Homo sapiens: one gene and its partner. The main gene of each other region encodes a partner of the protein of the gene in region 2 in a complex. Links are inferred from orthologs where the notes say so. Each region holds a gene or a part of one and is shown on either strand. Other genes may lie near its edges.

Region 1 (14,633 bases), 6.6 Mb from region 2:
GTAAGCCAATTTGGGTTAGGTCTAAATCATCGGGGGAAAAAAAAAAAGGCTCCTCACTAAACCAGGATAAAGAAGACTCCATCAGAAAGTTCTCTGGGATAAGATATACTATTAATTGAAATTCCCAATAGGAGGTAACATATAAACATACCCCCACATAAAACTGTACGTATTTTGACATGCTTGATGCATGATCTAGATCTTTCTTTTACTTTCATTGAGAATTCGAAGAGGACCACTTCAATATATTAATTATTGGCTGGCATTATTGCTAATGTTTCTTGGAATGTATGAACAAAAGCACTAAAATAGAATGATAAACCATCGAGATTCTAGTTATTTTTTGCACAAAGTTCACTGCAAGATGTTACTGTATATTAAACAAAAACAAAACTAAACCAACTCAGAAAATAATTTTTAAAAAGCCCCCCAGAACAGGATGAGGCTGGGTGTGGTGGTTCCTGCCTATAATCTCAGCACTTTGGGAGACCGAGGTGGAAGGATCACTTGAGCCCAGGAGTTCGAGACCAGCCTGGGTAAGAGAGTGAGACCCCGTTTCTAAAAAACCAAACAAAAAAAGAATTTTGAAAGGATGAGTGTGATTTAACCCACTGTTAGCTGCACGGCCCCACCTGCACTCTGGGCAACCTATGCCAGAAACGCACAGCCCATGGCTCCCACTCCTTCGTGACCTGGCACTTCTGGGTCGCATGGGCTCTGAGCCTAGAGGTACTTTTCCCTTGGCCACAGCATCTCTCTTCACCCACTCCCCATCCAACAGTGTGCCAGGTCTTATCAGGCCTGCCCTTCCTTCTGATCCCACTGTCTTTTCTAGACAGCAACCACCTGGTGTCCCCACCTGAAGCGCCTCCCTCAGACAAGTCCTAAGTTCCTATTGTGTGAACGTGCCTCAGGCCCAGCTCCAGTCATCTCCATCCATGTCCTAACTCCAGAGCTCTTGGTGGGCTCCCCATCTAGGGATCAATGCGCCAACTCTCCCCTGACCCTCACTTCTTGTCCTGAATTCTGAAGTCCAGCCAAACAATCAAAGCTCAAAGTTAATACCCTTCAGCTCTGAAGCCCTCCAATCCTTTCATCAGCTTTTTTTCCTTTTTTGAGACAAGAGTCTCAATCTATCACCCAGGCTGGAGTGCAGTGGCGTGATCTGGGCTCATTGTAACCTCTGTCTCCCTGGTTCATGTGATTCTTGTGGTTCAGCCTCTCAAGTAGCTGGGATTACAGGCATGCACCACCATGCCTGGCTAATTTTTTTTTTTTTTTTTTTTTGGTATTTTAGTAGAGACGGGGTTTTGCCATGTTGGCCAGGCTGGTCTCGAACTCCTGGCCAATCTGCCCGCCTTGGCCTCCCAAAGTGCTGGGATTACAGGCATAAGCCACCATGCCAGGCCCCTTTCATCATCTTTCAGGGCAGGGCTTGTCACTCCCTATTCCACCTTGAAAATACCTCTTGTGCCCAGGCTGTTGGGTTCCAGTCTCCAAATTTTTTTTTTTTTTTTTTTGAGAGAGGGTCTCACTCTGTCACCCAGGCTGGAGTGCAGTGGCGTGATCGCGGCTCACTGCGACCTCTGCCTCCTGGGTTCAAGTGATTCTCCCGCCTCAGCCTCCCAAGTAGCTAGTATTACAGGTGCGCACCACCACACCCAGCTAATTTTTGTATTTTTAGTAGAGATGGGGTTTCACCATGTTGGCCAGGCTGGTCTCGAACTCCTGACCTTAGGTGATCCACCCGCCTCAGCCTCCCAAAGTGTTGGGATTACAGGCGTGGCCAATAAGCCCAGCCCCGATTTTTTTTTTTTTTTTTTTTTTAATACAGGTTCTCGCTCTGTTGCCCAGGCTGTACTGCTGCAGTGGCGTGATCATAGCTCACTGTAACCATGAACTCTCGGGCTCAAATGATCCTCTTGTCTCAGCCTCCTGAGCAGCTAGGACTACAGGCACATGCCACCATGCACAGCTACTTTTTTTTTTTTTTTTTGTAGGGATGGGGTTTCACTGTGTTGTCTAGGCTGGTCTTGAACTCCTCCCACCTTAGTGTCCCAAAGTGTTGGGATTACAGGCGTGAGCCGCCGAGCCTGGCTAGTCTCTGAACCTAACCAACACTCTCTGTTACGGCTCGAAGACATAAATATAGGACCTTTTCAGTCAAACAGAAGGGTGTTTCCAGTATGCTATACTGCCCCCAACAAATCTAAAACAAAGTACTGGCATTTAAGAACCAGCTAAGAGAAATGCACAGGGACTGTGGAGGCAATGCTATTACCTCAGTCTGGTATTTGAAAAGGATTCCTTTTTTAGTCTACCCCCTCCCAAAGACCTTCCAGTTGTACCCTAGGGTCCCCTCTGTGTAAACCTTCAAGTGTTACATAAGATACTTGGAATGTCACTGAAGGATGCCACTTTTAGGCTCTATAAAAATCACCATTAACAATTTGGGAAGAAGCAAAGCTCTGTTGAACATCCAGTTATTGGCTGGTCTTCCTCACCAGAGGCATGAGGGATCCCTGTTGTCCCAGGGGCAGCCATCGACATCCCGACAAATGCCAGAGTACATCTCTCCCCAGGCAGCGATGACTCCATGGCGGTCTCATCCCTCACTACACTTTTCCTAGTGCTGGCATGGTAAAAGGCAATTAACTATAAATTAAACGGAAACTCAGTGTAGCAACTTCCATTTTGTTACAAGACTAGGAAACAAAACTTGTCTCTGATTTTCTTTTTAAGAAGACTTTTAAGTGTGACTGCGCGCGGTGGCTCATGCCTGTAATCCCAGCACTTCGGGAGGCCGAGGAGGGCGTATTACTTGAGGTCAGGAGTTCGAGACCAGCCTGGCCAACATGGTGAAACCCCGTCTCTACTAAAAATAAAAAAATTAGTCGGGCTACTCGGGAGGCTGAGGCAGGAGAATCGCTTGAACCCGGGAGGCGGAGGCTGCAGTGAGCTGAGATCGTGCCATTGCACTCCAGCCTGGGCGACAGAGCGAGACCGTCTCAAAGGCTTATGGGTTTCTGATCAAGTCATCTTAGCGACTGAAAGGGCTTCAGAGAAATCTGAACTTAAGTGCAAACAAAACAAAACAAACTCCAAAACAAAAAACAACCAACCATCAGACTTTAATCTCTATAGGGACAGAGCAATTTTCCTCAAACTTTTGCTCAGCAGAACACATCTGAAACTGGCCCCCTATGTGCTACGCATCCAGAAGAGGAAAAGCCGGATCTGAAAACAATATTCCACGCTAAATGGGCCGTCCCGGCCGGGGCAGGCGGTCCCAGCACCCGTGCTGAGCTCCCCGGCATACGGCACGACGGGGCCGCGCCGGCTCTTCGGCGACAGCAAGGCCGGCATCTAACTCCACACCGTCCGCGCTTGCACCGCGCACCCAGGCTTCGTACCCAGCTCCCAGGTGGGGACCGCGCCCCCGCGGCGCCCGCGCCCCGCGCCCCGCGCCCCGCTCCCCACTCCGGCCCTGGGCCGGCGCCGCAGCGGCCCGGAAGGTACCTGCTTAGAGGGAAGGGCCCCGACTGGCGCTGCCGCGGCCCCGGTGGAGAGGGCGGCTGGGTCGGAGCGGTGCCGCGGCCCGGGGAGGCGGCCAGGCGGCGCCTCAGCACCCGGACCCCAGGGGCGTGCGGGACCCGGCTCTCGTGGACTTCCTCGGCAGCCGCCGCTTCCTCAGACGGAACTCGGGGGGCGCCCCTTCCGCCGCCCCAGGCCGCCTTGCACCCCAAGCTGCTGCGGCAGTGACAGGGAAGAAGCAGACCCGGCCACCTCTGCCCATAGCCCCGGCCGCAGCCTCCACTCTCATGACAACCAAGCCCAGCCCTGGGCCAGGGCCTCTGCGCGTGCGCGACCCCGCCCCACCCCAGGCCGCGCCTGCGCACAAGGGGAGGGCTCCGCTACTCTGGCCCTCAGGGTTGTGTAGTTTCCGGGGCCACGGCACCTGGGCACACCAGGTGGCGTCGCGCCTTTGCTTTCCTGAGCCTTCTGAGTAAGGTAATGTGGTGTCCGTGGGGCGACGCCTGCGCACAAGACCGCGTCGGGCCTCACTTTTCCCAGGCCTTCTGGGTAATGTAGTTTCCGGGATCGGCACCCGGCCTGTGCCAGCTTGCAGAGCTCACCAGGTGCAGACCCCTGCGGCCAGGGCGAGGACGGATCTGAGCAGCTGGGCAGCAGGTGCCACCGCCTGTGGGACCCAGAGGGCTTGAGGACATCTGCAATGCTCCAGAAGCCCAAGAGCGTGAAGCTGCGGGCCCTGCGCAGCCCGAGGAAGTTCGGCGTGGCTGGCCGGAGCTGCCAGGAGGTGCTGCGCAAGGGCTGTCTCCGCTTCCAGGTGCCCGCTGGGCTAGGCGGGGACGGCCCGTCGGGGAGGCGTGTGGGGAGAATAGGAGGTGCCGCTTTTCCTCTTCCAAAACGGAGGGTGCAGGCGGCGCCCGGGGCGGGTAGTTTTCGTTCGCCTCAGCCGCTAGGACCCCGGGCCCCCGCAGCCTGGGGTTCCTGAGCGTGGCTTCAGAACGCAGGGGGGTTGGGGGACGACCTGGATCACCCCTTCCCTCTTCCCACCTCTCGGGCAGGACAGCCCTGCATCAGAGCTAGGAGACCCGGGTAGAGTGCCAGGTACTGGCACGCGGGGTCACGGCTGCTCTGCCTGTCCGGCCTCAGCTTCCCCTTGAGTAACATGAAAGGCTTGGCTAGGTGGGCTCTGCAGGCCCCTTCCAGCCCTCGCAGCTGGGGATTGCAATCGTCACCTTATTCTAGGTTGGTTTTCTTTTTAGACCAGTACTAGGGTTACCAGGTGTGCATTGCCGGGGTCGGTGCGGGTGGGGTGGGAGTAGCCATAAAATGCCTAAAACTGACCAGTGCAGAGTAACAGGGAACCGGACTCCAACAAATTAACAGTGCCACGTGCCGGTCACACTTGTGCACAGAGGCAACCAACCGTTCTCCTTCGTGTGCCAGCACCGCTCTGGCGGCTGTGTGCTGGGGATGGTGGTGTTCAGCTCCTGGCAGCAGGGAGGCGGCGCTGTCAAAGACAGGCTCTATTTGAAGCGCCCTCAGGAGCTCATTTAAAAAGGGTGAATCCTGCAGAGCCAGCAGTCACCCCCTGATGTATGTTTTTCCTGACTCTTCGTATTTTAGAACGGCCCGCAGTCAGGCGCCCTTGCTCCCGCTCCCTCATCCTTGCCTGGGCGTTGGAGCGACTGTGGCATACAGGCGGCAGCCTGAGCCTGCTTCTTTAAGCACAGCTCATTCCGGTCGTTTGTGAGGCCTGCAGATGCAAAGCCCTCGTCTTGAGACCCTTCCTCCTCCTGTTGCTTCTCCCGTCCCTGCAGCTCCCTGAGCGCGGTTCCCGGCTGTGCCTGTACGAGGATGGCACGGAGCTGACGGAAGATTACTTCCCCAGTGTTCCCGACAACGCCGAGCTGGTGCTGCTCACCTTGGGCCAGGCCTGGCAGGGCTGTGAGTGGCAAGGACTTTGGAGGTGGGCGGGAAGCTGGCACTCTCCGAGGTCCTGGGGGCTTAGCTCCAGGTGCCCATCAGGGTGGGGAAGAGTCCCCCTTACTGTGAACTCTCGGGTCTCAAGGAGGAAGCCCTCTGGAGGCAGAACTGGTCAGCGTCGCTTAGGTGGCAGAGTCCTCAGTCCTCTCGTTCATGAACCCAGCTGTTCAATTGGTCGTCTTTTTCTTCAAAAAATCTTTTAATTTTATTTGCGTTCATTTGAGGTGTCCTAGCAATTCCCAAGAGCAGAGGGAGGGCTTTGGGGTTGGGGCCTGCACAGTTTCATGGGGAAGGTGGAGCCAGGAAGAGATGCTGTTCTGTTCTGCTGGGCTGAGCACCCTTCTGGAAGGACGAGGTGGTGGTTCGTGGGATGCTCTCACATTGTTCTCGGTTGGTGTTTGCTAAGATGCTGTCCTCAGGGCTCAAGTTTGGGGGCAATTGCTTTGAGAGGTGGTTCTTTCGGGGCATCTGTATTGAAGCCTCAGGACACAAAGTCCTGCCTTTCAGAACCAGCCGAATGCCAAGGTCTGCGCTTGTTTGACTCCCGTAAAAGAGAGCTTTTGGCCACTGGGGCAGGAGATGCCATCATGTGCCTTTACCTGGGAGGGTCGGCCAGTGTTGTGCAAATGGGGTCAGGCTCCAGGAGATGCTTCTGGCAGCCCAGGAAGGACATGGGTGCTCTGAGGGATGGAGCTGTGGCTCCTTGGCCTAAGGGGCAAAAAGAGAGAAGTCGAAGAGTAACATCCATGTGGCCACCTCCCCGGCTACAGTGTTGGGGGCTCCACTGTCAGCATTGAGGGGTGACGCCTCTGGTGTGTGCTCCAAGGTTGCAAACCCCCTTTCTCCACTGGGCCTTGTGCTTTTAGAGGAGGCAGCTGGAAAATGTATCACTGTGATGCCCCCTGGGGTGGCCCCTGCAGGAGGTGGGGGCTGGGCAGGGGTATGCTCAGGGTATGCCTCACCTTTGGATGTTATCTTTCTTTCCCATTTCAGGGCATAGTTGAAAGACAGCAGAGCACGTTGCTCTCTCTCTGTCTCTCCCTGCATCTCGCAGTCTCTGTCTCTCTCCTCTGTCTCTGTCTCTGGCTCTCTCTGTCTGTCTCTGTCTCTCTCTCTCTCTGTCCTTCCTTTCTCTGGCGCTTTATCCTCCTCTCTTCGCTGAGACCGCTAGTCCTCCTCCTTGTTAGACTTAAAAAAAATTTTTTTTCTTTTCTTTTATGAAAACATTGAGATGGGGTCTCCCTCTGTTGCACAGGCTGGCCTCAAACTCCTGGGCTCAAGAAGTCCTCCTACTTTGGCTTCCCAAAGTGCTGGGATTACAGGCATGAGCCACTGTGCCTGGCCAAAATATTTTTGTTTTATTTATATTTTGAAACTTTGTTGCCCAGGCTGGAGTGCAGTGGCACAAACCTTGCTCACTGTAGCCTCGACCTCCGTGTTTCAAGTGATCCCGTTGCCTCAGCCTCCCAAGTATCTGGGACCACAGGCATGCATTACCACGTCTGGCTAATTGTTTTGTATTTTTTGTAGAGATAGGGTTTCGCCATGTTTCCCAGGATAGTCTCACACTCCTGGGCTCAAGCTGTCCTCCTGCCTTGGTCTCCTAAAGTGCTGGGATTACAGGTATGAGCCACTGTGCCTGGCCTAAACCGTTTATTTAGAAATAATGACAGATTCCCAGGAAGTTGCACAGATAGGAAGGTCCAATGTACCTCTACCCTTTCCCTCAAAGGCAACATCAGATACAACCGTGGTACAATATAAAACAGGAACACCGACACTAGTGCAATGTGCATGTTGTTCTGTCATTTCTCCCCATGTAGATTCCTGTGACCAGCATCAGGGTCAAGGTACAGCCCTCTCCCATCCATCACTCAAGGTTCTCCCCTTTATAATCCTGCCTACCCCTGCCCACCAGCAATCCCTAGCCCGTAGCAACTGCTGATATGTTCTCCATGTCTATAATTTTGTCATTTAAAGAATATTAGGGGCCAGGTGCGGTGGCTTACACCTGTAATCCCAGCACTTTGGGAGGCCGAGGTGGGTGGATCACCTGAGATCAGGAGTTCAAGACCAGCCTGGGCAACATGGTGAAACCCCGTCTCTACTAAAAATACAAAAATTAGCTGGGCATGGTGGCGGGCGCTTGTAATCTCGCTACTCAGGAGGCTGAGGCAGGAGAATCGCTTGAGCCCAGCAGGTGGAGGTTGCAGTGAGCTGAGATTGTGCCATTGCACTCTAGCCTGGGTGACAGGCTGAGACTCCATCTCAAAAAAAAAAAAAAAAAGAATATTAGGTAAGTGGAATCATAAAGTATGTGACCTTTTGAGATGAGCCTTTTTCACTCCACATAAGGCTCCCGAGATGCATGTAAGTTGTGTGTATCCATAGTCCGTTCCTTTTCATTGCTGAGTAGCATTCCATGGTTTGGTTTTACCACAGTTTGTTCAACCATTCGCCTGTGGAAAGATATTTTGTTTGTTTCCAGTTTTTGACTATTACAAATGAAGCTGCTCTGGCCAATTATGTACAAGTTTTTCTTTTTTCTTTCTTGTTTTCTTTTGAGACAGGGTCTCACCCTGTCGCCCAGGCTGGAGTGCAGTGGTGCAATCATAGCTCACTCTAGCTTTCACTTCCTGGGCTCAAGCGATCCTCCTACCTCCGCCCCTGAGTAGCTGGGACTACAGGGGTGCACCACCATGCCTGGCTAATTTTTGTATTTTCTGTAGAAACAGGGCTTCATCATGTTGCCCAGGGTGGCCTATAACTCCTAGGCTCAAGCAATCTACCCGCCTTGGCCTCCCAAAGTGTTGGGATTACAGGCGTGAGCCACCGCACCTGGCCATCTTGACAGGTTTTTGCGAGATGTAGGTTTTCATGCCTCTGGGGAGAATGCCCAGGAGTACAGTGCTGCGTTGTGTGGTGTGTGTTTAGTTTCTGAAGACAAGGATGTCCACTCTTGCTGCTTCTGTTTAACATGGTACTGCAGGGTCTAGCCAGGACATTTAGGCAAGAAAAATAAAAAGCATCCAGATTGGAAAGGAAGAAGTGAAGCTATTTCTATTTGCAGATCATATGAACTTGTATGTAGAAAACCCTAAGGAATCCACTAAAAAGTGATTAGAACTAATCATCAAGTTTAGCAAGGTTGAAGGATATAAGATCATATGCAAATATAGAAATACACTTCCAACGAACAATCTGAAAATGAAGCAGAAAATCATCCCATTTACACTGGCATCAAAAAGAATAAAATACTTAGGATAAGTGTAACAAAAAATTGTAATACTTATATTCTGAAAACTGCAAAATGTTGTTGAAAGAAATTAAAGTTTTGAATAAATGGATTAACATCCCATGTTCATGGATTGGAAAACTTAACATTGTTAAGATGGTGGGACTCCCCAAACTGACCTACAAATTCAACACAATCCCTATGAAAATTCCAGCTGGTTTCATTGTAGAAATTGACATGCTGATTCTAATCCACAGTTCATATGGAATTGCAAGAGACCCAGAATAGCCAAAACGACTGTGAAAAAGAAGATAGTAGGAGGACCCACATATTCTGATTTCAAAACTTAGTACAAAGCCACAGTAATCAAGACTGACACTGGTACAAGGACAGATATATAGATCAATGGAATAGAACAGAGCACCCAGAAATCTATGTATCTGTGGTCAGGATGCCAGGACCATTCAACGGAGGGGGAAGAGTAGTATCTTCAACAGATAGTGCTGGGACAACTGTATATTCACATACAAAAGAATGAAGTTGGACTCTTAGCTGGTACCTTATACAAAAAGTACAATAAATGAAAGACCTAAATGTAAAAGTTAAAAATATAAAGCCCTTAGAAGAAAACATAGCGATAAGTCCTCATCGCCTTGGATTTGGCAAAAGATTCTTAGATTTGACACCAAAAACATGAGCAGCAGAAGAAAAAACAGATAAATTGGGCTTCATCAACATTAAGAACTCTGGCCCGGGCACGGTGGCTCAAGCCTGTAATCCCAGCACTTTGGGAGGCCGAGACGGGCAGATCACTTGAGGTCAGGAGTTGAGACAAGCCTGGCCAACATGGTGAAACCCCGTCTCTACTAAAAATACAAAAATTAGCCGGGCGTGGTGGCAGGCGCCTGTAATTCCAGCTACTCAGGAGGCTGAGGCAGGAGAATTGCTTGAACCGGGGAGGTGGAGGCTGCAGTGAACGACAGCCCACAGAATAGGACAAAATAGTTGCCAATCATGTATCTAATACGGGACTTGCATCAGAATATATAAAGAATCCTTATAACTTAATAGTAAAAAGATAACCCAATTAAACATGGGCAAAGGTTCTGAAAAGAAAGAAATGTCTCCAAGGAAGATATTCAAGTGGTCGTAAGCACAGGAAAAGGTGCTTGAGATCATCAGTCGTCAGGGAACTGCAAATCAAAACCACAGTGAGATGCTACTTCACACCCACTAGGATAACAACCAGTGTGGGCGAGGATGCAGAGCGGCTGGAACCCTCAGGCCCCATTGATGGGAAGGGAAAACGGTGCAGCTGCTGTGGAAAATAGTCTGGCAGTTTCTCAACAATTACACAGAATCGCCATGTGACCCAGCAGCTCCACTCCTAGGTATGTACCCAAGAGAAATGAAAACACGTCCACACCAAAACTCGTCCGTGAGCGTTTACAGTAGCTTTATTCATAATAGCCAAAAGGTAGAAACCACCTAAGTCTCCAATGATGAACACTTGGATCAATAGAGTGTGGCACATCCATACAATGGAAGTACTCACCATGAAGAGGAATGAAACACAGCATGGCCGAGCCTTGAAACCATGCCAAGTCAAGAAGCCTGCACATACAGTAGGGTTCCATTCATAGGAAATACCCAGAACGGGGATGTTAGAGAGATGGAAAATAGATTAGTGGTTGTTTAGGGTTGGGGGTAGGGTAGAGGGGAGGGAGGTTGGTAGCTAAAGAGTATGAGGTTTCTTTTTGAGGTGGTGAAAATGTTCTGAAATTGACTGTGGATGTGGCTGCACAACTCTGGGAATATAATAAAACCCATTGTATTGTACACTTTATTTATTTTATTTATTTTTTTTGAGATGAAGTCTTGCTCTCTCCCCAGGCTGGAGTACAGTGGCGCGATCTCGGCTCACTGCAACCTCTGCCTCCTGGGTTCAAGCGATTCTCTTGCCTCAGCCTCCCGAGTAGCTGGGGTTACAGGCATGCACCACTGCGCCCAGCTAATTTTTGTATTTTTAGTAGAGACAGGGTTTCACCATGTTGGCCAGGATGGTCGCGATCTCCTGACCTTGTGATCTGCCTGCCTCGGCCTCCGAAAGTGCTGGGATTACAGGCGTGAGCCACCGCGCCCGGCCTCTGAATTGTACACTTTAAATGGGTGAATTATAAGGAGTGTGAATTATATTTCAATAAAGCTACTTAAAATAAAGAAAAGAAACTGCCAAGTTGTGTGCTAGAGTGGCCGTCTTACCTTTCCACTGCGCAGTTTCTGTGCAGCCTCGCCAGCTTTCGGCGCTGTTGCTGTTTTTAATTTTAGCCATTCTGATTGCAGTGTGGTGATGTCTCGTTGTGCCCTTAATATGCATTTCCCTAATGGCTAACAATGCTGACTATCTGAATATCTTTTATAAAAACAGAGACAGGGTCTCACTCTGTTGCCCACGTTGGAGTGCAGTGGCAATCATGGCTCACTGCAACCCTGAACTCCTGGGCTCAAGCGATCCTCCTACCTCAGCCTCCCAAGTAACTGGGACTACAGGTGTGCACCCCCATGTGCCGCTAATTATTATGATTTTTTTTAGAGATGGGGGTCTTGCTTTTTTTTTTAGAGATGGGGTCTTGGTTGCCAGGTTGGTCTCAAACTCCTGCCCTTAAGTGATTCTCCCACCTCGGTCTCTGAAAGTGCTGGGATTACAGGCGTGAGCCACCGCGCCCAGCCCTAAATATCTTCTTATGTGCTTATTTGCCATCTGTAGATTCTCCTTGGTGAAGTGTTTCTTCCTGTCTCTTGTCCTTTTTCTAATTGGCTTATTTATCTATTTTTTTACTGTTGAGTTTTGAAAGTCACGCCTCACCCCACAAACAAAATACCTGGACATGAGTTCTTTGTCAGACATGTGGTTTGCAAATATTTACCCTGTGGCTTTTCATTCTCTTAAGAGCATTTTTTTTTTTGCGGAGTAAGAGTTTTTAGTTTTGAGGAAGCTCAGTGTGTTGATTTTCTCTTTTACGCAGTGCTTTTGATGTTAGGTCTAAGGACTTCCACCAAGTCCTCACTCCCCAGCATGTCCTCCTGTCTTCTTCTGACCCACTGATGTGATCGTGAGGCTTTTCTCATATGGTGGATCGCACTGATCGATTTGCAGGTGTGAACCAGCCTTGCGTTCCCACTTGGCCGTGGTGATATTTCTTTGTGCATGTTACTGAGTTCTCTTTGCTAACATTTTGTTAAGGTCCTGGGTAGACTTTGCTTTAACTTCCTATTAAGAGCCTGCCCGGAGAGCTCGCTGCTTTAGGGAGTTGTGAAAAGGCTCCAGGAGAGAGTAGGAAAAGTGATCGGAAGGATCTGAAAGCAAGGTCTCCAGGAAGGGCCAAAGTGGGGGGCGTATGGTTTGGAGGGGAGGAGGCCAAATGGGAAAGCGGCCGTCTCTTGGTGCGCTTTCATCTGTCCTCTAAAGCACACCCTGCCCCTCCCTCCTCTGTCCTCATGCCGCCCTTGTGCGTGGTCCCCAGCTGTTGGTGTCAGGGCAAGGACAAAGACCCGGGACACCTCAAGTCTGAGTCCTGGTGATTGCCAGGCCCTGGGGAATGGGGGAAGATGTGGTCAGAGGCTCTTCTTGTGACCGGGGCAGGATGTGTCTTCTGCTGGACCGGCACCTTTTGTTTGTCCCATTGGTGGCAGATGTGAGCGACATCAGGCGCTTCCTCAGTGCATTTCACGAGCCACAGGTGGGGCTCATCCAGGCCGCCCAGCAGCTGCTGTGTGATGAGCAGGCCCCACAGAGGCAGAGGCTGCTGGCTGACCTCCTGCACAACGTCAGCCAGAACATCGCGGCCGAGACCCGGGCTGAGGACCCGCCGTGGTTTGAAGGTGCGTGGGGGCTGCAGCTGGCAGGGGAGAGGCTTCTTTGGAGCCTGAGGTGCCAGAAGAAGTTGGATTCCAAAAAGCCCCCAGTGAAGGGCTGGCCTGTACCCTCGTGGGTTGAGGTGGGGGACTTGGAAGAAAATGTGCTCATTTCCCAGCATTTCCCAGCCTCGTGGGAAAGGTACCCAGCAAGGACTCAGGTGGGGCCAGAGTCCAGGGCAGCCCTCGGATGGGACTTTTTATATTTTTATAGATATGTTTTGAGATGGAGTCTTGCTCTGTCCCCCAGGCTGGAGTGCAGTGGCGTGATCTTGGCTCACCGCAACCTCTGCCTCCCTGCACCCTCTGCCTCCCAGGTTAAAGCGATTCTCCTGCCTCAGCCTCCCGAGTAGCTGGGATTACAGGCAAGTGCAACCACGCCCTGCCAATTTTTGTATTTTTAGTAGAGATGAGGTTTCGCCATGTTGGCCAGGCTGGTCTCAAACTTCTGATCTCAGCCTCCCAAAGTGCTAGGATTACAGGCGGGAGCCACCCCGCCTGGCCTATTATAATTATTTTAAAAATTGTGCTAAAGTACATATGACATAAAATTTACCTTCTCAATCATTTTTTTAGTGCACAGGTCATCGGCATTAGGTACAGTCACATTGTATGCGGCCATCCCCACCGTCATCTCCGGAACTCCTTCCACCTTGCAAAGCTGAACCCGTGTCCCTGTTACATCACTCCCCCTTCCCCCTCCGCCAGCCCCTGGCCACCACCATTCCGGTTTCTGTCTCTCTGATTTGATGACTCTAGGGACCTCATATGAATGCAGTCACATAGTATTTGTCCTTGTGTAACTGGCTTATTGCACTCAGCACAGTGTCCTCAAGGTTCATCCATATCGTAGCGTATATCAAAAGTTCTTTCTTTTTTTGAGACAGAGTCTTGCTCTGTTGCCCAGGCTGGAGTGCAGTGGCGCGATCTTGGCTCACTGCAAGCTCCACCTCCCGGGTTCACGCCATTCTCCAGCCTCAGCCTCCCGAGTAGCTGGGATTACAGGTGCCTGCCACCACGCCTGGCTAATTTTTTTGTATTTTCAGTAGAGACGGAGTTTCACTGTGTTAGCCAGGACGGTCTCAATCTCCTGACCTCGTGATCCGCCCGCCTCGGCCTCCCAAAGTGCTGGGATCACAGGCGTGAGCCACCACGTTCAGCCAATTTCCTTCTTTTTAAGGCCAAATGACAGTCCACTGCGTGTACATACCACGCCATCTATTCACTCCACTGCGTGTACATACCCCACTCTGTCCATTCACTCCACTGCGTGTACATGCCACGCTCCGTCTGTTCACTCCGCTGCGTGTAGATACCACACTGTCTATTCACTGACACTTGGGTTGCTTCCACCTTTTGGCCTGGCCTTGTAAGCCCATCAGAGGCGATGCTGAGAGATTGTAGCCTTTTTGGGAAAGGAGGGCTTGAGGGCCAGGCAGAAGCTCCTTGGTGGTATTTGAGATGCTTCTAACAACAAAAACCAAACAGGGATGCTGTCTGTGTCGCCATTAGAATACTTCTCAAGATGATGCAATCTGGCCAGGTGTCGTTGCTCACACCTATAATCCTAGCACTTTGGGAGGCCGAGGCTGGAAGACAGCTTGAGCCCTGGAGTTCAAGATCAGCCTAGGTAACAAAGTGAGACCTCATCTCTAAAAACATTTAAAAAGTGAGCCAGGTGTGGTAGTGCGTCCCTGTAGTCTTAGCCACTTGGAAGTCTGAGGCAGGAGGATTCCCTGAGCCCAGGAGGTTAAGGCTGTAGTAAGCTGTGTTCGTGCCACTGTACTCCAGCCTGGAGGACAGAGCAAGACCCTGTCAAAAAGATGAAGCAGTATGACCCTCATATTCTGCCCTGCTTGGCACCTGGGCTGGGCAGGACACAGACCCAGAGGCCCCTGGCCTGCCCTGTGGACTTGGGGGTCTTCTCGTTTTCCTTGCAGGCTTGGAGTCCCGATTTCAGAGCAAGTCT
Region 2 (14,949 bases):
TTCGCCACTGCACACCCAGTGCATAGAACCATGACAGGCACAGGATGGGGCTCAATAAATATGTTTTGGGTCAAGCACAGAGGCTCATATCAATAATCCCAGCACTTTGGGAGGCCAGGGTGGGAGGACTGCCTGAGCCCAGGAGTTCAAGACCAGCCTAGGCAACCTGTGAAGACCTCCTCTCTATAAAACATTAATTAATTATTTTTTTTGAGACTGAGTCTTGCTCTGTCACCAGGTTGGAGTGCAATGACGTGATCTCGGCTCACCGCAACCTCCGCCTCCTGGGTTCAAGCTATTCTCCTGCCTCAGCATCCTGAGTAGCTGGGACTACAGGCACACGCCATCACGCCCAGCTAATTTTTGTAATTTTTTTGTTTTTTGAGACAGAGTCTTGCTCTGTCTCCCAGGCTAAAATGCAGTGGCGTGATCTCTGCTCACTGCTACCTCCCCCTCCCAGGTCAAGTGATTCTCCTGCCTCAGCCTCCTGAGTAGCTGGGATTACAGGTGCTTGCCGCCACGCCTGGCTAATTTTTATATTTTTAGTAGAGACGGGATTTCACCATCTTGGCCAAGCTGGTCTTGAACTCTTGACCTTGTGATCCACCCTCCTCAGCCTCCCAAAGTGCTGGGATTACAGGCGTTAAGCCACCGTGCCCGGCTGTATTTTTAGTAAAGACGGGGTTTCACCATGTTTGCCAGGATGGTCTTGATCTCTTGACATCGTGATCTGCCCGCCCCGGCCTCCCAAAGTTCTAGGATTATAGGTGTGAGCCACCACGCCTGGCTTTATTTATTTATTTATTTATTTTTGAGACAGGGTCTTGCTTTGTTGCCCAGGTTGGTGTGGTATAGTCATGGCTCACTGAAGCCTTGACCACCTGGGCTCAAGTGATCCTTCTGCCTCAGTTTCCTGAGTAGCTGGAACTACAGGCACACGCCACCACACCTAGCTAATTTTTGTAGAGATAGGGTTTTACCACATCAAACTCCTGAACTCAGGCAATCTGCTCACCTTGGCCTCCCAAAATGCTAGGATTACAGGTATAAGCCACTGCACCTGGCCTACAAAAATTAAAAAAAAAAAAAAAGAAAAAATAGCGCAGTGTGGTGGTGCAAGCCTACAGTCTCAGCTACCTGAGAGGTTGAGGTGGGAGGATGGCTTGAGCCCAGGAAGTCGAGGATGCAGTGAGCTATGATCATGCCACTGCACTGGGTGACAAAGCAAGACCCTGTCTCAAAGAGAAATTTTCTTTGAATGAAAACATACTGTTTTTATCCCAATCTTTTTTTTCTTTTTGAGATGGAGTCTCTCTCTGTCACCCAGGCTGGAGTGCAGTGGTGCGATCTCGGCTCACTGCAAGCTCCACCTCCTGGGTTCAGGCGATTCTTCTGCCTCAGCATCCCGAGTAGCTGGGACTACAGGTACAGGTGCACACCACCAGGCCCGGCTAATTTTTTGTATTTTTAGTAGAGATGGGGTTTTACCATGTTAGCCAGGATGGTCTCGATCTCCTGACCTCGTGATCTGCCCGCCTCGGCCTCCCAAAGTGCTGAGATTACAGGCGTGAGCCACTGCACCTGGCCTATCCCAATCTTACTAGAGAGAAAACACAAGGAGAGAAGCTAAGCTACTGGCTCAAAGTCGTGGTGACAGCGCTGGGATGTGAAGCCATCTACTCCAACGCTACATTCTCTAGCAGGGCATCCCTGACCCCAGCGTCCACCTAACTAGGTTTAGGGTGGATCCCAGGCATTTGTATTAAAAAAAAAATCTGGCCGGGCACGGTGGCTCACGCCTATAATCTCAGCACTTTGGGAGGCTGAGGCAGGTGGATCACTTGAACTCAGGAGCAGCCTGGCCAACATGATGAAACGCTGTCTCTACTAAAAATACCAAAATTAGCCAGGCGTGTTGGTGTGCACCTGTAATTCCAGCTACCTGGGACGCTGAGACAGGAGAATTGCTTGAACCCGGGAGGTGGAGACTGCAGTGAGCTGAGATTGCACCACTGCACTCCAGCCTGGGCGACAGAGTAAGACTGTGTCTCAAAAAAAAAAAAAAAAAAAAAAAAAAATCCACAGGTAATTCTGCTTCGTGACGAGGGTTGAAAAATTACTCTAGGTGAGAATGAGAAGATGAAAAATCTTAGTTGTAATTTAAGAATTATTTAAAAATTAAGATTAAAACAAAGAAATTGCTATGGCAAGTATGGAAGCTAAGAAGGTGCTGGGGCGGGGGGCAGAGGCTGGATGAACATTGTTGCAGGTTGTGGAGGAGGCTTTACCTGGAGGTCCTCCTCTGATAGGAGGATGATGCTGGACAGATCTTCTTTCAGCTGCCTGGCCACATTCTTCCACTTCAACCCTGCCCCGCTGTCTGTTTCATCTACATCAAAGGACTCTTGGGAAATCCAAGCTGTACCTCCATCTGACACATGGGAGAAAATGCCAGTCACAGAACAACCTGAAGTGCTGTTTTCACCTCCTCCCCCAGCACACACAGACCTCTTGAGGATCTAGATTAATTTCAATGGGAAAGAAGCATCTTATCTCAAGGATTCACAGGAGGGTCAATATCCATCCAGGACCTTGATTTTCCCTCTTCTTTCATTTTTTTTTTTTTTGAGACAGAGTCTCACTCTGTTGCCCAGGCTGGAGTGCAGTGGCACGATCTTGGCTCACTGCAACCTCCACTGCCCGAGTTCAAGCGATTCTCCTGCCTCAGCCTTGCAAGTAGCTGGGATTACAGGTGCCCACCACCATGACCAGCTAATTTTGGTATTTTTAGTAGAGACGGGCTTTCACCATGTTGGCCAGGCTGGTCTCAAACTCCTGACTTCAAGTGATCTGCCCACCTCGGTCTCCCAAAGTGCTGGGATTACAGGCATAAGCCACCGTGCCTGACCCTCTTTCATCTTTATCTCTGTGTGCAACGGCTCTGTATTCTTCCATAGAAAAAGCCATTTAAACCCAATGTGTGGTCACACCTACAAGGAATCCAATCACACTTCCCTTTCTGGTTTCTGTGTGTCCAGGTGTGTCCTGTTTTTTATACGAAAACGGTCATTTGTGCCAGCATTTCTCTGTGCTTGGGGATTGGTCCCTTCTTTAACTGGCAGAGCTGTAGCCATCGATTGCTGTCCCTTAGGCCTGAGCACAAAGGTGGCTGGTAGGGCCACTGCTGTAGGATGACTTCCTCAATTTTGTGGCACACTTCAGGACACTTTTTTTTTTTTTAAGTCCCTCCCTAAAACTAATCCCCTCTCAAGACACTTCTTGATCCTTGGTCACCAATGTTAGTCCCCTTTCTATCTCCTGTGATGATGATGATGGCAGGGACAGGTAACAATTATTGAGTCCTTAACTATGTGCCAGGTAAGATCTAAACACTTCATATCAGTGGTTCTCAAGTGGGAGCAATTTTGCCCCCCAGGAGACATCTGACAATATCTGGAGTCATTTATTCTTGGTTATCACAGTTGTGGGGGGAGGTTCGTAACATCTAGGATGCTACTAAACGTCCTATCATACACAAAGCATCCTCTTCACAACTCCAGCCCCAAATGTCAGCAGTGTCATTGAGAAACCCTGGTTTGATATGTACTATATTATCTTTACAACAATCTTAGGGGACAGGTTCTATAATTATTATGTCAACAAGGCACTGAGAAGTTATGTAATTTGCACAAGGTCACCTGGTTAGTAAATGGTAGAGCCAGGATCCAGACCTCAACAGCTGGACTGCAGCCTGCAGCACTGAGCTCCCTGCCAGGCTGCATTTCAGTTGCTGTCTGTCCATGAGTTAGTTGAGAACTGGGCCCATGTCTCATTCATCTATTTTTTTTTTTTTTTGAGACAGAGTCTCGTTCTGTCGCCCAGGCTGGAGTGCAGTGGCACAATCTCAGCTCACTGCAACCTCCACCTCCCAGGTTCAAGCAATTCTCCCGCCTCAGCCTCCCAAGTATCTGGGATTACAGGTGCCTGCCACCATGCTCAGCTAGTTTTTGTATTTTCAGTAGAGATGGACTTTCGCCATGTTGGCCAGGCTGGTCTCAAACTCCTGAGCTCAGGTGATCTGCCCACCGTGCCTGGCCTCATTCATCTTTATCCCCAGGACTCAGCACCATGTCTGGCACATAGAAAGTGCTCAGTAAATATCTGTTGAACAAATGCTTAAAAAGCCAGACAAATGGCAATTGTCTGTGCAGTGAAAGTAATCATGATGGATGCTGTACTGCATAGGCCGTTTTATACATGGCTAGAGTTTCTTACCTGAATTGTTGTATGCCCATTTCTCATTACTAGCCAATGCCACAAACTTAGTATTGGAAGGTAGACACAGAAAGTAATCGTCATCATCCACTATGGTGCCATCCTCTGCCAGGACCAGGGTGACTGGTGTCAGGGACTTATCAATGGCCAGAATGTCACAGGCTGAAAAGAATAAAATATTTGGCAAATGACAAATAACCGTAAGGAAATTACATCTATCCCTGCATCTCAAGTATGTATGGCTCCAGAGCTGAGCAGAACTCCTGGTAGGTAATAACTAGAATCACAATCATCACTTCTAGCACTACCAGAACACTCATCACGTGCCTGATTCTGTTCTAAGTGTTCTTTTCTTTTTTTTTGTAGCAGGGTCTCACTCTGTTACCCAGGCTGCAGTGCACTGGCGCGATCTCGGCTCACTGAAACCTCTGCCTCCCAGGTTCAAGTGATTTTCCTGCCTCAGCCTCCCGAGTAGTTGGGATTATAGGCGTGCACCACCATGTCCGGCTAATTTTTGTATTTTTAGTAGAGACGTGGTTTCACCATGTTGACCAGGCTGGTCTCGAACTCCTGACCTCATGATCCACCCGCCTTGGCCTCCCAAAGTGCTGGGATTAGAGGCATGAGCCACTGTGCTCAGCCCTAAGTGCTTTTCTTTCTTTCTTTTTTTTTTTTTTTGAGACAGGCTGGCGTGCAGTAGTACAATCTTGGTTCACAGCAACCTCCGCCTCCCGGGTTCAAGCAACTCTCTGCCTTAGTCTCCCGAGTAGCTGGGACTACAGGCACCGGCCACCGTGCCTGGCTAATTTTTGTATTTTTAGTAGAGACGGGGTTTCACCATCTTGGCCAGTCTGGTCTGGAACTCCCGACTTAATGATCTACCTGCCTCGGCCTCCCAAAGTGCTAGGATTACAGGCATGAGCAACCGCGCCTGGCCTAAGTGCTTTTCATATACAGTATTTAATCTCATAATAATCCTGTAAAGTAGGTACTTTTATTAGTTCTGTTTTATAGATGATGAACCCAAGGCTCAGAGAGGTTAAGTAACTTGTCTAAGATCACACAGTAAGTGGCAAAGCTGGGATTTAAACCCACAAAGTCTGGCTCCTGAAAGTATGTTTACTCCAGCTACTCCACACTCATGTATGGTAGGCATTTGAGTTTTTACTGGAGTGAACAACCAATCAAAGTCTAGTTTGATTCCTTGCAAACAAGCAGTCTCTCATTCATTTATTCAGTTTTCCTCTTTTTTTTTTTTTTTTTTTTGAGACGGAGTCTCACTCTGTCGCCCAGGCTGGAGTGCCCAGGCGCTATCTGGGCTCACTGCAAGCTCCGCCCCCCGGGTTCACGCCATTCTCCTGCTTCAGCCTCCGGAGTAGCTGGGATTACAGGCGCCCACCACCACGCCCGGCTAATTTTTTTGTATTTTTAGTAGAGACGGGGTTTCACCGTGTTAGCCAGGATGGTCTCGATCTCCTGACCTCGTGATCCGCCCACCTCGGCCTCCCAAAGTGCTGGGATTACAGGTGTGAGCCACCGGACCCGGCCCTCAGGTGTCCTCTTAAATTCTCCTATGTGTAAAAATGTCAAAAAATACACCAAAAAGGCCAGGCACGGTGGCTCACGTCTGTAATCCCAGCACTTTGGGAGGCCGAGGCGGGTGGATCACAAAGCAGGCAATCGAGACCATCCTGGCTAACATGGTGAAAAACCGTCTCTGCTAAAAAATACAAAAAATTAGATGGGCGTGGTGGTGGGCGCCTGTAGTCCCAGCTACTCGGGAGGCTGAAGCAGGAGAATGGAGTGAACCCGGGAGGCGGAGCTTGCAGTGAGCCGAGATAGCGCCACTGCACTCCAGCCTGGGTGACAGAGTGACACTCCGTCTCAAAAAAAAAAAAAAAAAAAGAAAATGCTTTTTGTTCTTTACAGTATCTTCCTTAGCAGCTTCTTTTCTAACCTATGGGAAAGTATAAAAGAAGTGGAAGCTTCTATCAGTAGCTTTTCATATCATTATCATTGGCGGAGAGGCTTTCTCCAGGACAGGTCTGTACTATTCCATTTAGTGATAGCAATGCTTCAAATACTAACGGGACTGGAGTGATCAGAAATAGCCAAGAGACTACAAATATCCTTCAGCGGTGTTGTCTACCACCCAATAGAACAGCAAGGCATGTATGCGCTGGACTGCAGAGAACACCAGCCTCTGTGCCACGCACATCCAGCCACGGCACTGAAGGGGAATTAGAAGTAAAGTAATCTAATGTCAGGAAAAAAAATACATAAATGCTTATATGCAAAATCCATGTTACCAAAGCATTTATAATGCTTTGGCTGTTCATGGGTCTCTGAAAATTTCCATATGATTTCTGTTGGTGACTGAGAGGAAGCAACTGTGCCCTCTGACACACACTGTGACTACATGCCTGGGGCTGGCTCACACATGTAACCTGTAAAACTTCTTTGGGTAAGCGATTTGTTGCTACTGGCTAATAAGACTTGTAAGTCACTTAAATATATCATCTTATTTGAGAGAACCAACAACCCTTTGAAGCAGGGCTATAAATATTATACCCAATTTGCTGATGAGAAAACTGAGGGTTGAGAGCTGGTTAAGTGCAAGGCCAAGCAGCTGGTAAAGGTATGGGGCCGGGCTCGGAACTTCCGTCGGCTCCGTCACTTACAACTCACGTTCCTTGTCTGGACCTCCAGAAATGGTCAGTAGCAGCTCCCTCTTTCCTGCATAGGTTCCTGCCAGAGCGGACGGTGGAAACCCCTCCCCACACCGCCGTGGGCTCAGCTGGGGGTTCTTGTACCATCTGAGTGTGGCGGAGTGGCAGGAACCCAGTGGGGTCCGTTTGGTCCAACATCGAAGTGATTTCAGGCAAGAGACCTAAGCCGAGTCTGGCTTAATTTGCACATTGCTTCCTGGCTGTCTTCCCACCACCGTGGAGTCTCACACGAGATTAATTACGCTCAAGCGCCTTAAATCTGTAAATCGCTATGCCCACTCGGACCGTTTCTGTCCCAAGCCTCCACCCGAGATACAAGAATCCCCAAGTCGCCTCTCCTGACCCCGCCTCGCCCCCGCCGGACGTCCTCACCCGGCCCTGGCTCCCCCACACCCTCGCCCGGGGTCCCGAGCCAACCCTTGCTCCTCAGGTCTTCGAGGCAGGAGGCGGCCACGCCGTGCTGTTCGCGGCTGTAGTTGCGGCGCAGCAGACACGGCTTTAGAGTCCGGATCTCGCCAGATTCTGGTACCCCGGCGTCCCCGGTCACCTCCATCCTCCACAAGGTGGGACCTGCCCACCTTCGAGAAGTCGCGGGAGGCCGGAGCGGCGGTCCTTCTACTCGACCCCCTTCCGCAGCCTGCCGGGAGATGTAGTTCGTTCCGCAGCAAATCACACGTGAGACCAGGGCACGCCGGGAAATGTAGTTCTAGTTGCCGCTAATCACGTGTGGCGTCGAAGCATGCCGGAAACTGTAGTCTCTGGGTTTAAAGCCGCTTTCGTTCTATCGCGCGATTCAGCCTAGGAGTTGTTTTTAACTTTTAGGAGCTGCATTCGCGCGTTCAAATATAAGGCCAATAGAGACTTATTTTGCATGACGATGCACACGCATGTATACTGTATTGAATTTTTAGAGCATTCCTATTCGCATATGAGATGCATAATGCTAATACAGACACCCGCATGTTTCCACCCATTCTATTTCCTGCTTCAACTGTGCAAATTAGTTTGGGGTCTCAGAACAAAACGCTTAAATAAATATAGTAAGCATTAAAGTCTCAAATGCATCGGAGAGGAAAGGGGAAATGCGACTCGGCACTGTTGGAGATTGTTCAGATGCCTCTTGACAACATATTCATCTTTGTTTTAATACTGCTACTATGGAAAAGTTTGTTTTTTTCCTCCTGAAAAATAAACATCTAAGATTAAAAGAATAGTAATAAAAATGATCAAAAAGTTCCTCTCTTAAAAGAGGGCATTTTATGTAAACTAGAAGTAATTATCTGCTCATATTTATTCATTCGGGGGACACTTTCCTTCCTTGTTTCTTTTTTCTTTTTTTGAGACAGCGTTTCGCTCTGTCTCCCAGGCTGGAGTGCAGTGGCGCGATGATGGCTCACTGCAGTTTTGATCTCCTGGGCTCAAGCAATCCTCCCACCTCATATTTTGTTTATAAAAACGTGGGCAAGGGCCCCGGGGGCGGTGGCTCACCCCTGTAATCTCAGCACTTTAGGAGGCCGAGGCGGACAGATGATCTGAGGTCAGTAGTTTGAGACCAGCCTGGCCAGCATGGTGAAACCCTATCTCTACTAAAAATACAAAAATTAGCCGGGCGTGATGGCGCACGCCTGTAGTCCCAGCTCTTGGGAGGCTGAGGCAGGTGAATCGCTTGAACCCGGGAGGCGGAGGTTGCAGTCGGCCCAGATCGCACCATTGCACTCCAGCCTGGGCGTCAGGAGCAAGACTTCGTCTCAAGCAAAAACAAAAACAAAAGCAAAAACAAACAAAAAAAACGTGGGAGAGGAAATTGGATATTATCTCAAGAAAAGTTTAGACATTTAAAACAGCGTTTAGTAGGAGGAATTATTCATTAAGTCATCCCTTTTAAGCAGTCTATATTGATCAAAACACAACTATAATAGGAGCTGGCGGTTAACTCTAATGTATGTATCCTTTTTCATATAATTTCATTTTTTATTTTCTTATCTTATTTTTAGACAAGGTCTCGCTCTGTCGCCCAGGCTGGAGTGCAGTGGCATAATCATAGTTCACTGCAGCCTCAACCTCCTGGGCTCAAGGGATCCTCCTGCCTTGGCCTCCTAAAGTGTTGGGATTACAGGTGTGAGCCACTGCTCCCGTCCAATATTTAATTTAAAATCTAACAATTAAAAAAATCTAACAATTCAACCAGTGTAAAATAATGACGTTTTGTAGAAGCCTCTTCTCTTCAAAATGCCCCCTTTTATGTTCTCCCAATAGACCTGCACACTTATCCGAGTCCTATCCCCATAATACTGTAATTGTAAGTGTGTTTGGCCTGGGCGTGGGAGTAGGGATTGAGTCTTGAATGTTTTTATTTCAAGGCCTACCAAAGTCCCTAGCATATAGTAGGCACTCAATGAATGGAACTGAACTGATGTCTAAAAATTAATTTCCAAGTTTCTTCGCATTCATCCATTGGCAAGTCCCTAAATGTGCCCATGGCACTGTGGGGATGGGCAGAGATTAACTCAATAAGAATAATATGGGCCGGGCGCTGTGGCTCACTTCTGTAATCCCAACACTTTGGGAGGCCGAGGCGGGCAGATCACCTGAGGTCGGGAGTTCGAGAGCAGCCTGACCAACATGGAGAAACTCCATCTCTACTAAAAATACAATGTTAGCCGGGCATGGTGGCGCATGCCTGCAATCCCAGCTACTCGGGAGGCTGAGGCAGGAGAATCACTTGAAACCGGGAGGCTGAGGTTGCGGTGAGCCGATATCGCGCCATTGCACTCCAGCCTAGGCAACAAGTGCGAAACTCCGTCTCAAAAAAAAAAAGCAAAACCAGAATAATACACATATAACAACGCAAAGAAGATATAGACTTGGGATCTTCCTGGAAAGCAGAGTCTTAACGGAAACTATGCAAGGTGACCCGGACACCCGGGCTCCACCCCTCTGCCCCAGTCCCCTACATCGACAGGCTCTGTTCCGGCTACCTTAGTCTGGGCGGGAGGGCGAGAGCGAGGGCGCCTGGGAGAAACCTCGCCCAGCGGCGGTTGATTAGTCAGGCCTCAGAAAGATGGCGTCCTCGGAGCAGGCAGAGCAGCCGAGCCAGGTAAGGGGAGTGGGACTGCCCCGCTGTGCGGCGGAGACCCCGGCTGGAGGGGGCGCTCAGCATACGGCTGGGAGCCGGGTAGGGACCCCGAGTCTCCGAAGCTGGGGACCCCGACCTCTTGCCCCCTCCTGAGCCCCGCCCCTCCCCAGGTCCTCCCCACCCGGCCCCTCCCCCCGGTGACCCCTCTTTGACCACATTCCGGAGCCCGGGCTCTGGTGTTTGGCTGTGCCCCCGGGTCCCCACTTCCCGCCTGCCAGCACCTCTGGTCCCACTTGAGCTTGTTGGGGAGGGTGACGGGACCCTTGGGAAGTCCCCAGCCTTGAGCTGCGAGGGCTTGAGAAGGAGAGGATAGATCGATCGTTCCCGGCTGTCCCCTCCGGGGAGGGGCCTGTTTCCATTAGGGTTCCCACTCCCTCACGGCCTCAGCCTCCTGGAGCGGCTGCCAGCCTCTTCATCTGTGGTCACCTTTGCGCTTCTCTCGTCAAGTTGGATAGTCAGAAATAATCTAGTCGAGCCCTCTCAGTGCGTTGATAGGAAAGGGACGCACTGTGACTAACAGACGCCACCAAGCTTTTGGCTGAGGACCCATCCTCGCTTCCCTGGGTTTGGTTTTGTTGGCCGAGGGCTCCGCTCTAGCTTTTCACCTGCAGATTCAGACAAATCCCACTCCAATAAGGGGACCATAAGGACCAGCGTTGACGCCTGTGCCTCTGCGGCCGGGAGGCAGTGGATGATAAGGTCTCCGAAGGGGTTTATAGTCCAAAGGTGGGGTAGGGTGGGGTGAGGAGAAAAGGGCTAAGAGACATCTTACATTTAACTGCCTGTGTGGTGTCATGTTGAGCACAAATTACATCTATTATCTCGTTTAGTGTTCACTACAACCTTTATGAAGTGCAGGCTACTAACCTCCATTTCACAGAAATGAATACTAAGGGTTTGTGACATGCCCCAAATCGTGTGCTCTGTTGAGCCTGTATTGAACCTGTGTGACTCCACTAGTCATCCATACATTTTTGAGTTTAGTTAGGATTAGAATGAGGAAGAAGAAAATAGTTTCAACTTGGGGCCTCATTCCTCCTCTCCCATCTCCTTGAAGCACCTCTAAGAGTTTTCAGCAACTTACTAGTATTTCACTTCCTTCAGAGGCAGAAGACCACCGCTTAGTGTTTCTTACTGTCTTATTCTGCACGTCTGTTACAAGAATTGAACTTAAAGGAGTTGGTGTGTTCCCCCATACCAGTTTCTATTAGCAGTGTGAATGATTCAGGAAGAAGATGTCTTGATTGTAAAACATGGGAGATAACAAGGACTGATTCTGGCCTTCTCACTGTCAGGTGTTCTGGAGTTTGGCAAGTGTCTCGAGAGGAGGGCCTCTCCTTTCTTGCCTTACCACATTTAGTTTGCTGAAATACTAAGGCATCTTGGGGTCTGGGTTTCTCTGAATTGTTTTGTGTTAGGAATGCCCACAGGCTGGGATTGAAGGGTGTCCTCAGTTCCTGATTCTTTTTTCTTTCTTAAGACGGAGTCTCTCTCTGTCGCCCATGCTGGAGTGCATTGGCGCAATCTCGGCTCACTGCCTCCCGGGTTCGAGCAATTCTCCTGCCTCAGCCTCCCAAGTAGCTGGGACTACGGGTGCCTGCCACCACACCTGACTAATTTTTGTAATTTTAGTAGCGATAGGTTTCACCATGTTGGCCAGGCTGGTCTTAAACTCCTGACTTCAAGTGATCTGCCCGCCTCAGCCTCCCAAAGTGCTGAGATTATATGCGTGAGCCACCGTGCCCGGCTCTGTTCCTGATTCTTATAGGACATTTAATTTGCCAGTGCTGTAAACAGTACTAAAAATCTTGCCACTTGGAGCCACTGTTATGCCCAAGGATTCTTTTGGTTTTGCAAGTTTGCCCTCTCTGTATATGTATTTAATAGAAAAGGATCTAAGGTCCTTTAAGGGGGCATGGCCATCACTTGTTTGATTTTCAGCTCTGCTTCTCCTTTGCCCTCCTTTCCAAAGCTGGTGGAGGTAGGATTGCCACAGAACATGCTGGCAGCCTGGGGGAAAAACTTGAACTTTTCTTTTTTTTTTTTTGAGACAGAGTCTCGCTGTGTCACCCAGGCTGGAGTGCAGTGGCGCGATCTCTGCTCACTGCAACCTCCGCCTCCTGGGTTCACGCCATTCTCCTGCCTCAGCCTCCCTAGTAGCTGGGACTACAGGCGCCCGCCACCATGCCCAGCTAATTTTTTGTGTTTTTAGTAGAGATGGGGTTTCACCGTGTTAGCCAGGATGGTCTTGATCTCCTGACCTCATGATCCGCCCACCTCAGCCTCCCAAAGTGCTGGGATTACAGGCGTGAGCTGCAGTGCCTGGCCAAAACTTGAACTTTTCATAACAGACTCTATGGCTATCTAACAAGAAGCAAATGCACGCTTTTTGAATGAACCAATGCTCTTCAGCAATTGCCTGTTTCATTTTCAAGTCTTGATCAATCCAGTTTCCCATTTCTCCGATTAAAGCAGAGTAGGATTGAAAGGATTGTTTAGCTAATTCCCCCACGCCTTGTTGTGTAGGGTTAGAACTGTGGGGCTGAGCCAGTATTCTGTCTTTCACAGAAAGTTTGTTGGTTAGCCTTGTCATATCAATCTCTGGTTTCCAGCTATTAAAGGTGAATAACCTTCTCTTCCCTTGAGAGGCAGTGTAGAATAGCGGTTACAAGTATAGGCTCTAAAGCCAGACCCACTGGCTTGGAATCCTAACTCCACTAACTTACCAGCAATGTCATCTCGGACAGATCTACTTAATTTTTCTAGACTTAATTTCTCCATGTGCAAAACAGGGAAAATACTAGGACCTATCTCACAGAGTTGCTCTGAGGACTAAATGAGTTATTTATTTATTTATTTATTTTTGAGACCGAGTCTCACTCTGTTGACCAGGCTGGAGTGCAGTGGCGCGATCTCGGCTTACTGCAACCTCCGCCTCCCAGGTTCAAGTGATTCTCCTGCCTCAGCCTCCCAAGTAGCTGGGGCTACAGGTATGCACCACCAGGCCTGGCTAATTTTTTTTTTTAAGTAGAAATGGGGTTTCACCATATTGGACAAGCTGGTCTCAAACTCCTGACCTCAGGTAACCTGCCCACCTCGGCCTCCCAAAGAGCTTGGTATTACAGGCGTGAGCCACTGCACCTGGCCTTAAATGAGTTATTTATGTAAAAATGCCAGAACAGTGCCTGAAACAATGTGTTGTCTATTATTATTATTATTCAATTTAATAAGCTCTGAGTTTTCACTCACAAATGGATCTAAACCTTTCTTCAAGTTCTATTACGACATCTTTTGGGGTATGATTTTTCATGTGTTGACTACTTGTCTAGTAAAGTTCTTTTATTCAGAAGTAATTCCTTAAAATTTCAAGGAATGCCCTGAATGCTAGTGTTTATTCTAGCTGTCCTTCATGACTTTTGCATTTCAGGAACATACTTACTTTTTCATAATGGTATAGTCTTTTTAGTCTATCCTCAAGACGACTTGCTGGAATTTCATTTATTGCTTCCTTTGTTCTGTGTTCCCCACATTGCTCTGTTTTATGTGGTTGATCTATTGATTGAGACAGGGTCTCACTCTGTCACCAGAGTGCGGTGGTGTGATCATGGCTCACTGCATCCTTGCCCGCCCAGGCTCAGGCAATCCTTTCGTCTCAGCCTCCTGAGTAACCGGGACTACAGGTGTGCACCACCATGCCTGGCTAATGTATTTTTTTTTTTTTTGAGACAGAGTCTCGCTCTGTCGCCCAGGCTGGAGTGCAGTGGTGCGATCTCAACTCACTGCAAGCTCCGCCTCTCGGGTTCGAACCATTCTCCTGCCTCAGCCTCCAGAGTAGCTGGGACTACAGGCACCTGCCACCACGCCCGGCTATTTTTTTTTTATTTCATTTTTAGTAGAGACGATGTTTCACCGTATTAGCCAGGATGGTCTCGATCTCCTGACCTCGTGATCCGCCCACCTCGGCCTCCCAAAGTGCTGGGATTACAGGTGTGAGCCACTGTGCCTGGCCTGGCTAATGTATTTTTAAAACAATTTTTGTAGTGGTGAGTTCCTGGCTGGGCGTGATGGCTCATACCTGTAATCTTAGCACTTTGGGAGGCTGAGTTGGGAGGATCGCTTGAGGCCAGGAGTTTGAGACCAGCCTTTGCAATATAGGGAGACCTCGTTCCTACTGAAAATTAAAAAATTAGCCAGGCATGGTAGTGCTTGCCTGTGGTTCCAGCTACTTTGGAGGCTGAGGTGAGAGCATCACTTGGGCCTGGGAGGTTGAGGCTGCAGTGAGCGGTGATTGTGCCATTGCCCTCCAGCCTGGGTGAGAGAGCAATACCCTGTTTGGGGACGGGGGAAGAGACAGAGAGAGAGAAAGTGCTGAGATTATAAGCATGAGCCACCACGCCCAGCCAGCATGGCTGATCTCTCATTGAAGTCCTTTCTAGTGTGTACACGTTGGAGCCCGTAGGAATGAGAAACGTTATCTCTATTTCCCAACTTTCCTACTAGCTTTTCTTCCTTCGCTGAACAGCAGAGGCATGGTTCAATCTGATTACTTCACAGTTACTGAGTATCGAGTATTATTGCAGAAGGTAGATTTCCTATCTGTGGAGGTTCACTGGGTACAGTAAATTTTGCATTGAGAGGCTACAGAAGCAGGCAGGGAGAAGAGCAGAGTGAAAGAGTGGAAGAGCATGGCTTCGCATCCTGGCAGGTTTTGGTGGAACTTCATCACTCACAACTATTGGACTTATCACTCCACCTTTCTGAGTATGTTTTCTCCTCTGTAAAACGAGAGCAATAATAGTTACCCTTAAA

What was found.
Region 1: the proteins of DFFA (region 2) and DFFB are in contact, whole or in part, in an NMR structure (PDB 1F2R), measured with the Mus musculus proteins. The link is inferred for Homo sapiens from one-to-one orthologs. Residues at the interface, in NP_001020467.1 of Mus musculus: Asp66, Thr68, Ile69, Val70, Asp71, Asp72, Asp74, Tyr75, Trp94, Tyr96, Asp100; in NP_031885.3 of Mus musculus: Cys10, Lys12, Arg14, Ala19, Cys20, Lys21, Phe22, Gly23, Val24, Ala25, Ala26, Arg39.

The regions. Positions count from the first base shown.
Region 1 is NC_000001.11:3,853,370-3,868,002, forward strand, and holds the start of DFFB (DNA fragmentation factor subunit beta), read left to right. Parts: upstream 1-4,106; 5' UTR 4,107-4,234; coding exon 4,235-4,348; intron 4,349-5,348; coding exon 5,349-5,475; coding exon of another isoform or gene 5,476-5,497; intron 5,498-7,050; exon of another isoform or gene 7,051-7,137; intron 7,138-12,273; exon of another isoform or gene 12,274-12,348; coding exon of another isoform or gene 12,349-12,442; coding exon 12,443-12,631; intron 12,632-12,914; coding exon of another isoform or gene 12,915-12,934; exon of another isoform or gene 12,935-13,033; intron 13,034-14,604; coding exon 14,605-14,633. Other genes in the region: CEP104 (centrosomal protein of 104 kDa), read right to left, coding at 2,505-2,598. UniProt on the Homo sapiens protein: Nuclease that induces DNA fragmentation and chromatin condensation during apoptosis. Degrades naked DNA and induces apoptotic morphology.
Region 2 is NC_000001.11:10,464,902-10,479,850, forward strand, and holds the start of DFFA (DNA fragmentation factor subunit alpha), read right to left. Parts: upstream 7,629-14,949; 5' UTR 7,558-7,628; coding exon 7,422-7,557; intron 4,438-7,421; coding exon 4,276-4,437; intron 2,432-4,275; coding exon 2,289-2,431; intron 1-2,288. Other genes in the region: peroxisomal membrane protein PEX14, read left to right, coding at 10,066-10,179. UniProt on the Homo sapiens protein: Inhibitor of the caspase-activated DNase (DFF40).